2 separate regions of the Homo sapiens genome follow, and region 1 is linked to region 2. Evidence: fine-mapped expression QTL. A gene starts in region 2. The other region holds a variant in brackets. All regions are shown on one strand. Distances are from middle to middle.

The links. PIP is the estimated chance that this variant, and not a neighbour inherited with it, causes the effect. A credible set is the group of variants that fine-mapping cannot tell apart.
Region 1: its variant is the best candidate, but not a certain one, in a credible set for the expression of COCH in whole blood (INTERVAL, PIP 0.63).

The regions. Positions count from the first base shown.
Region 1 is chr14:30,846,029-30,848,841 of GRCh38, forward strand. No RefSeq gene overlaps it. Among named protein-coding and RNA genes, the nearest start is that of COCH, 27 kb to the right of the region's middle. The variant C/CT (reference allele first, on the strand shown) is at 1,566.
Region 2 is chr14:30,873,143-30,875,955 of GRCh38, forward strand. It overlaps COCH (cochlin), which reads left to right and starts at 1,417. Exons shown (of 12, transcript NM_004086.3): 1 at 1,417-1,449; 2 at 1,774-1,830; 3 at 1,914-1,961. The coding sequence starts at 1,797. RefSeq lists a silencer at 979-1,498.

The sequences.
Region 1 (2,813 bases), 27 kb before region 2:
TTATGTTGATTTTGTATCCTGCAACTTTACTCAATGTATCAGTTCTAATAGTTTTTGGTGGAGTCTTTAGGTTTTTCCTAATATAAGATCATATCATCTTCAAACAAAGATAATTTGACTTCTTCCTTTCCTATTTGGATGCCTTTTATATCGTTCTCTGGTCTGATTGCTCTAGCTAGGATTTCTAGTACTACGTTGAATAACAGTGGTGAAGGTGGGCAGCCTTGTCATGTTACAGATCTTAGAGGAAAGGCTTTTAGTTTTTCCCCATTCAGTGTGATACCAGCTGTGACTCTGTCATATATGATGTTTATTACATTGAGGTATATTTCTAGCCCCAGTATTTTTTTAAGGGTTTTATCATGAATGGATGTTGAATTTTATCAAATGCTTTTTCAGCATCAGTTGAAATGATCATGTGGTTTTTGTCCTTCATTTTGTTGATATGATGGATCACATTGATTTGACTATATCGAACCATCCTTACACCCTGGGATGCATCACACTTGTTGATGATAAATGATCTTTTTAATGTGTTGTCAAATTCTGTTTGCTAGCATTTTGTTGAGGATTTTTGCATCAATGTTCATAAGAGATACTGGTCTGCAGTTTTCTTTTTTTGTTGTGTCTTTGTCTGGTTTCGGTACTGGGTAACACTGACCTTGAAGAATGAGTTTGAAAGTATTCCCTCCTTCTTTGTTTTTTGGAATAGTTTGAGTAGGACTGGTATTAGTTTTTCTTTACATGTTTGGTAGAATTCAGCAGTGAATTCATCAGGTCCTGGACTTTTCTTTACGGCGAGATTTTTTATTGCGGCTTTAATCTCATCGCTTGTTATTGGTCTGCTCAGGTTTTGAATTTCTCTATAGTTGAATCTTAGTAGGCTGTATGTGCCTAGGAGTTTATCAATTTCTTCTAGGTTTTTCAATTTTTGGCACATAGTTGCTCAAAATAACCTGTAATGATCTTTCGAATTGCTGTGGTATCAGTTGTAATGTCTCCTTTTTCATCTGTTTATTTATTTGGGTCTTCTCTCTTCTTTGCTTAATTAGTCTGGCTAAAGGTTTGTCACTTTTATCTTTTCAAAAAACCAACTTTTGGTTTCATTAATCTTTTTCAAATTGCATTTTATCTGGCTGATATTTCCAAAAATGCATGGCTTATGCTTAGCATGATTTCCTAGTTTCAGTGTCAATGCAGTTTTGTCCTAATTACTTCTCTTTGGCCATTTTGTTCCATTACAAGCTTGTTTTTATGCCATCCCCTTTCCATTGAAGAAAAATATATATCACATACCCAAATATGTACACACATGTATACACATGTATATATAATTCTTGATATAATCAAAAGAATATATGTAATGTATATGTAAGTTTTAAGTAAAATAAGACAAAGAACAACACTCTGTATCCTTGACAATATAAGAAACAGAACACTGCAAAAAATTGTAACTATATACTTGCCCTCCCCTTATGGTGGAAGGTGCCCTCTTCATATAGGGAGAAGTACACAGAATATACCTGGCAGTGTTTCCTGATTTTAATGCTAGTAAATTTTATTCC[C/CT]TTTTTTTTTTACTTATCTTTAGCCATTTCATTGAAATTTTGTATTAGAGACCTTTGGGTGTTCATTATCAACTGATAGATTCAGTCTGTGTATGTGTTAATGAGAAAGAGTGACTGTAATAACCCATTTTCATACTGACGTTGCCTGGATTTGGTATCAAGGTAGCAGTGACCTCATAGAATGAGTTTTCTATCCTCTCAAAGAATTATTACATTTGGAATAATATGCTCCTTAGAAATTTGGTAGAACTACCTGTAAAACATCCAAGACATAGAGTTTTCTTAGTGGGAAAACATCACTGATAGTTTGATTTTTTTTAAATAGTCTTAGGACAATTCAGGCTTTCTATTTATTTTTTCTAAATTTTTATTTATTTGTTTTAATTGAGAAATAAAAATTGTATATATTTATCATGTACAGCATGCTTTGAAATAGGTACACATTGTGGAATAGCTAAATCGAGCTAATTAATATATATATTACCTCACATACATATCATTGCTTTGTGATGAGAACACTTCAAATCTATACTTAGCAATTTTCAAGAATATAATGCATTGTTATTAACTATAGTCTGCATATTTTACAACAGCTCTCCTTTTTTTTCAAAACAGGTTTTTCCTAGGATCTATGGAATAGATTAGTTCTGGAAAATTTAAAGCCCATATCTCTTTAAATATTGCCTACAATTTTCTCTCTAGTCTCACTTTTTGGGACTCGGTTAAATATATATTAGATTTCCTCACATATCTACTTTTTTATGTTTTCCAATTCCTTTTCTGCCTTTCCTGGAGTGATTATGGCTGTATTAAATCTGCTGTCAAACCCATTCATTGAGTCCTTAAATTTTTAACAATTGTATTTTACATTTTCAGAAATTCCCTTTTATTTCCAAGTCTACCTATTTATTCCTGCTGGTTTTTTTGTTACTTACTTATCTTTTTGATTGTGTCCATTATTTCTTTAAGTTTTTTTTTTTCTTAGAGACAGAGTCTCACTCTGTTGCCCAGACTAGAGTGCAGTGGTGAGATCATAGCTCGCTGCAATCTCCAACTCCTGGGCTCAAGAGAGCCTCTTGCTTCAGCCTCCCAGGTAGGTAGGGCAACAGGCGTGCCCCACCATACCTGGCTACTTTTTTCTTATTTTTTGTAGAGATGGGGCTCTCAATATGTTATCTAGTGTGGTCTCAAATTCCCAGCCTCCAGCGATCCTCTTGCCTCCATCTCCAAAAGAGATTACAGGCATGA
Region 2 (2,813 bases):
GGAATGAAATCAACACTCCTTAGTTGCCTGATACAAATACTAAGTCATTCCAATCAGGAAGATAGTTGTAATTAAGACTACTACACTAGTTGACTTCCAGGTGATGGTGGTGTATTTGTTTCTCAGTATAAAATGGCATGGGAATACTTTTCAACAATAAAAAGAAAGGAAGTACTGTTCTATAATGCCTCATGGATGAACCTCAAAAACATTCTGTGCAGTGAAGGAAGCCGCACAATGTATAATCCCATCTATAAGAAACGACCACTAAGAAAAATCTATAGAGACAGGAAATAGGTTAGTGATTGCCTAGGACTAGGAGTGGGAGAAGAGACTGACTGACAATGGCGAGGAGATCATTTTGGGGAGGATGAACCTGTTCTGAAATTGGCTTGTGGTGATGGTTGTACAGCTCTGAAAATTTACTAAACATCATTGAACTGTACACTCAAAACGGATGGATTTTATGGCATGTAAATTGTAACTAAATAAGGCTATTTGAAAAAGTTTATATTGTACCAGAAAGGTTAGCGTCTGGGCCTGGGTCTGGTTCTTCCGCTGCCATGCAGGTCGCCTGTCACTAACACTCCTCAAGAATTCTGCTCCTTCTCCATTTCCATTTGTAAAACGTTAGCAGGATGGTGCGGGGAGAAGGAGAACACATTATCAAATCTGAGATTCTGTGCAGTCACAAGACACCAAGTCTGGGAATTTCGAAAGGCAATCAGGCATAAATTCTTCCTGAGGTGAGAAAGAAGCAAAGGTACCGGCTGCTGGGGTCAGGGCTGTCTCACACGCGTGGCTCTAGGCAGGAGCACAAATTGAACCACTGGGGAAAGTAGGACTCCAGCAGAAACGAAGGCGCAAGGCCGAATCCCTAAGGTCCAACGAGCTAGCAGTCAGTTGACAGGGTTTCTAACAAAAACGCGGCATGCGTTTACCAAACCTAGGGTGGTTTTATTTCAGAAGTAGGAACTCTTTCCACGAGAGCACCAAGTTGAGAAGTTCGGTTCTCAGGCCGCGTGGACCTGACAGCTCTCAGAAGCTCCAGGCCTCGCTGGGTGGGGCGGGTAGCGGCCGCCGCTGCCTCAGCAGCCCTGGTCCCGGCAGAGCAGGGCTGGCGAGGCCGCTGCTGCCGCCGTCGGGGCCGCCGGCCCTCCACACTCGTTGAGACGCCGGCACGGGGACCTTCGTGCCCCTCTAGGGACTGGCGCCGCGTCCAGGTGGCCGAGCCTGCGCTGCTGGAGGAGGCGCCTCCGCGCCGGCCTCACCCCGGGGCCGGCAGGGGGCGAAGGCGGAGCTGGAAGTCGCCGCCGGGCCCCGGGGGACCGGCTCCCGCGCTTCCTCCCGCGCCCCCCGCACAGTGCTCATGCGCACGGCCCAGCCTTTATAGCGGCCGCGGGGGCCTTGCCTTCCGCACTCGGGCGCAGCCGGGTGGATCTCGAGCAGGTGCGGAGCCCCGGGCGGCGGGCGCGGGTGCGAGGGATCCCTGACGCCTCTGTCCCTGTTTCTTTGTCGCTCCCAGCCTGTCTGTCGTCGTTTTGGCGCCCCCGCCTCCCCGCGGTGCGGGGTTGCACACCGATCCTGGGCTTCGCTCGATTTGCCGCCGAGGCGCCTCCCAGACCTAGAGGGGCGCTGGCCTGGAGCAGCGGGTCGTCTGTGTCCTCTCTCCTCTGCGCCGCGCCCGGGGATCCGAAGGGTGCGGGGCTCTGAGGAGGTGACGCGCGGGGCCTCCCGCACCCTGGCCTTGCCCGCATTCTCCCTCTCTCCCAGGTGTGAGCAGCCTATCAGTCACCATGTCCGCAGCCTGGATCCCGGCTCTCGGCCTCGGTGGGTGCGCGCCCCTCACGACCCCGGCCCCTTGCTCCGCTGGGTGGAGGCTGGAGCCAGCCCTCACGCTTCTCTCTTCGCAGGTGTGTGTCTGCTGCTGCTGCCGGGGCCCGCGGGCAGCGAGGGAGCCGGTGAGTGGGGGAGCTGGGGTGCGTCCAGGCGGTCGCAGGGGCTGAGCACCAGCGGGTACAAGCGGGACTCAGATCCAGCCCCTTGGGCTTCAGCCCTACCGCCTGAGGAGGAAGGCGCGAAGGTTGAGCCGCCGCGTGGCGCGCCCGCGTTAACCCCTGCAGCCGATCTGCTCCTGCTCACCTGTTTCTCCCATGGTAGGGGGCCCCTGGGGTCCAGTGGGGGGACGTTCTCCAAGAGCACTAGGAAGAAGGCCTCCTCCAGGCCCACCCACAGCCCCAGACCCCGGGCCCGCTGAGCGCCGGCAGCAGGAGGTCGAGGAAGGAGGACTCCTTGAGCCTCACCGAGGAGCGCACCAGTCCTGGGCTCTGCTGCGTTTGGGGGTGGAGGAGAAGCCGCCCAGACCCGACTTCAGGTTGCCGTAGCCGAGAGAGAGGGAGGCGAACGTCGCTGTCCCACCTTGTTTGACTCGCTAGCTATGTTTCTAGGTGTAACCCCTATAATCAGAAGCACTCGCGGTCTCACTCTACACGCTAGAGAGTTTAAAAAGTTTGTACCACGTGTAGAGGTCCGGGTATGGGTGTGTGGTTTGGTGTATTTTCCAGTGTAAAAGGCAACGCTTTCCTAAGAGCTACCGTTTGTTTTCCTTGAAAGTAGGAATGAGGGTTAAGTATCCCTCATGGCTGTATTTCTCCCGCTCTACTTAACAAAAGTCAGTGTTCGCAACTAAAGGCGGTCGGTCTTGGCACCGGATTCCGATGCCGCCCCCATCTCAGCGGAAAATGGGAGGAAGGATTAAGGCTGTTTGATGATAGGTATGAGGCTGTTTAGGGGTAAGGATTTTAACCTCTCAG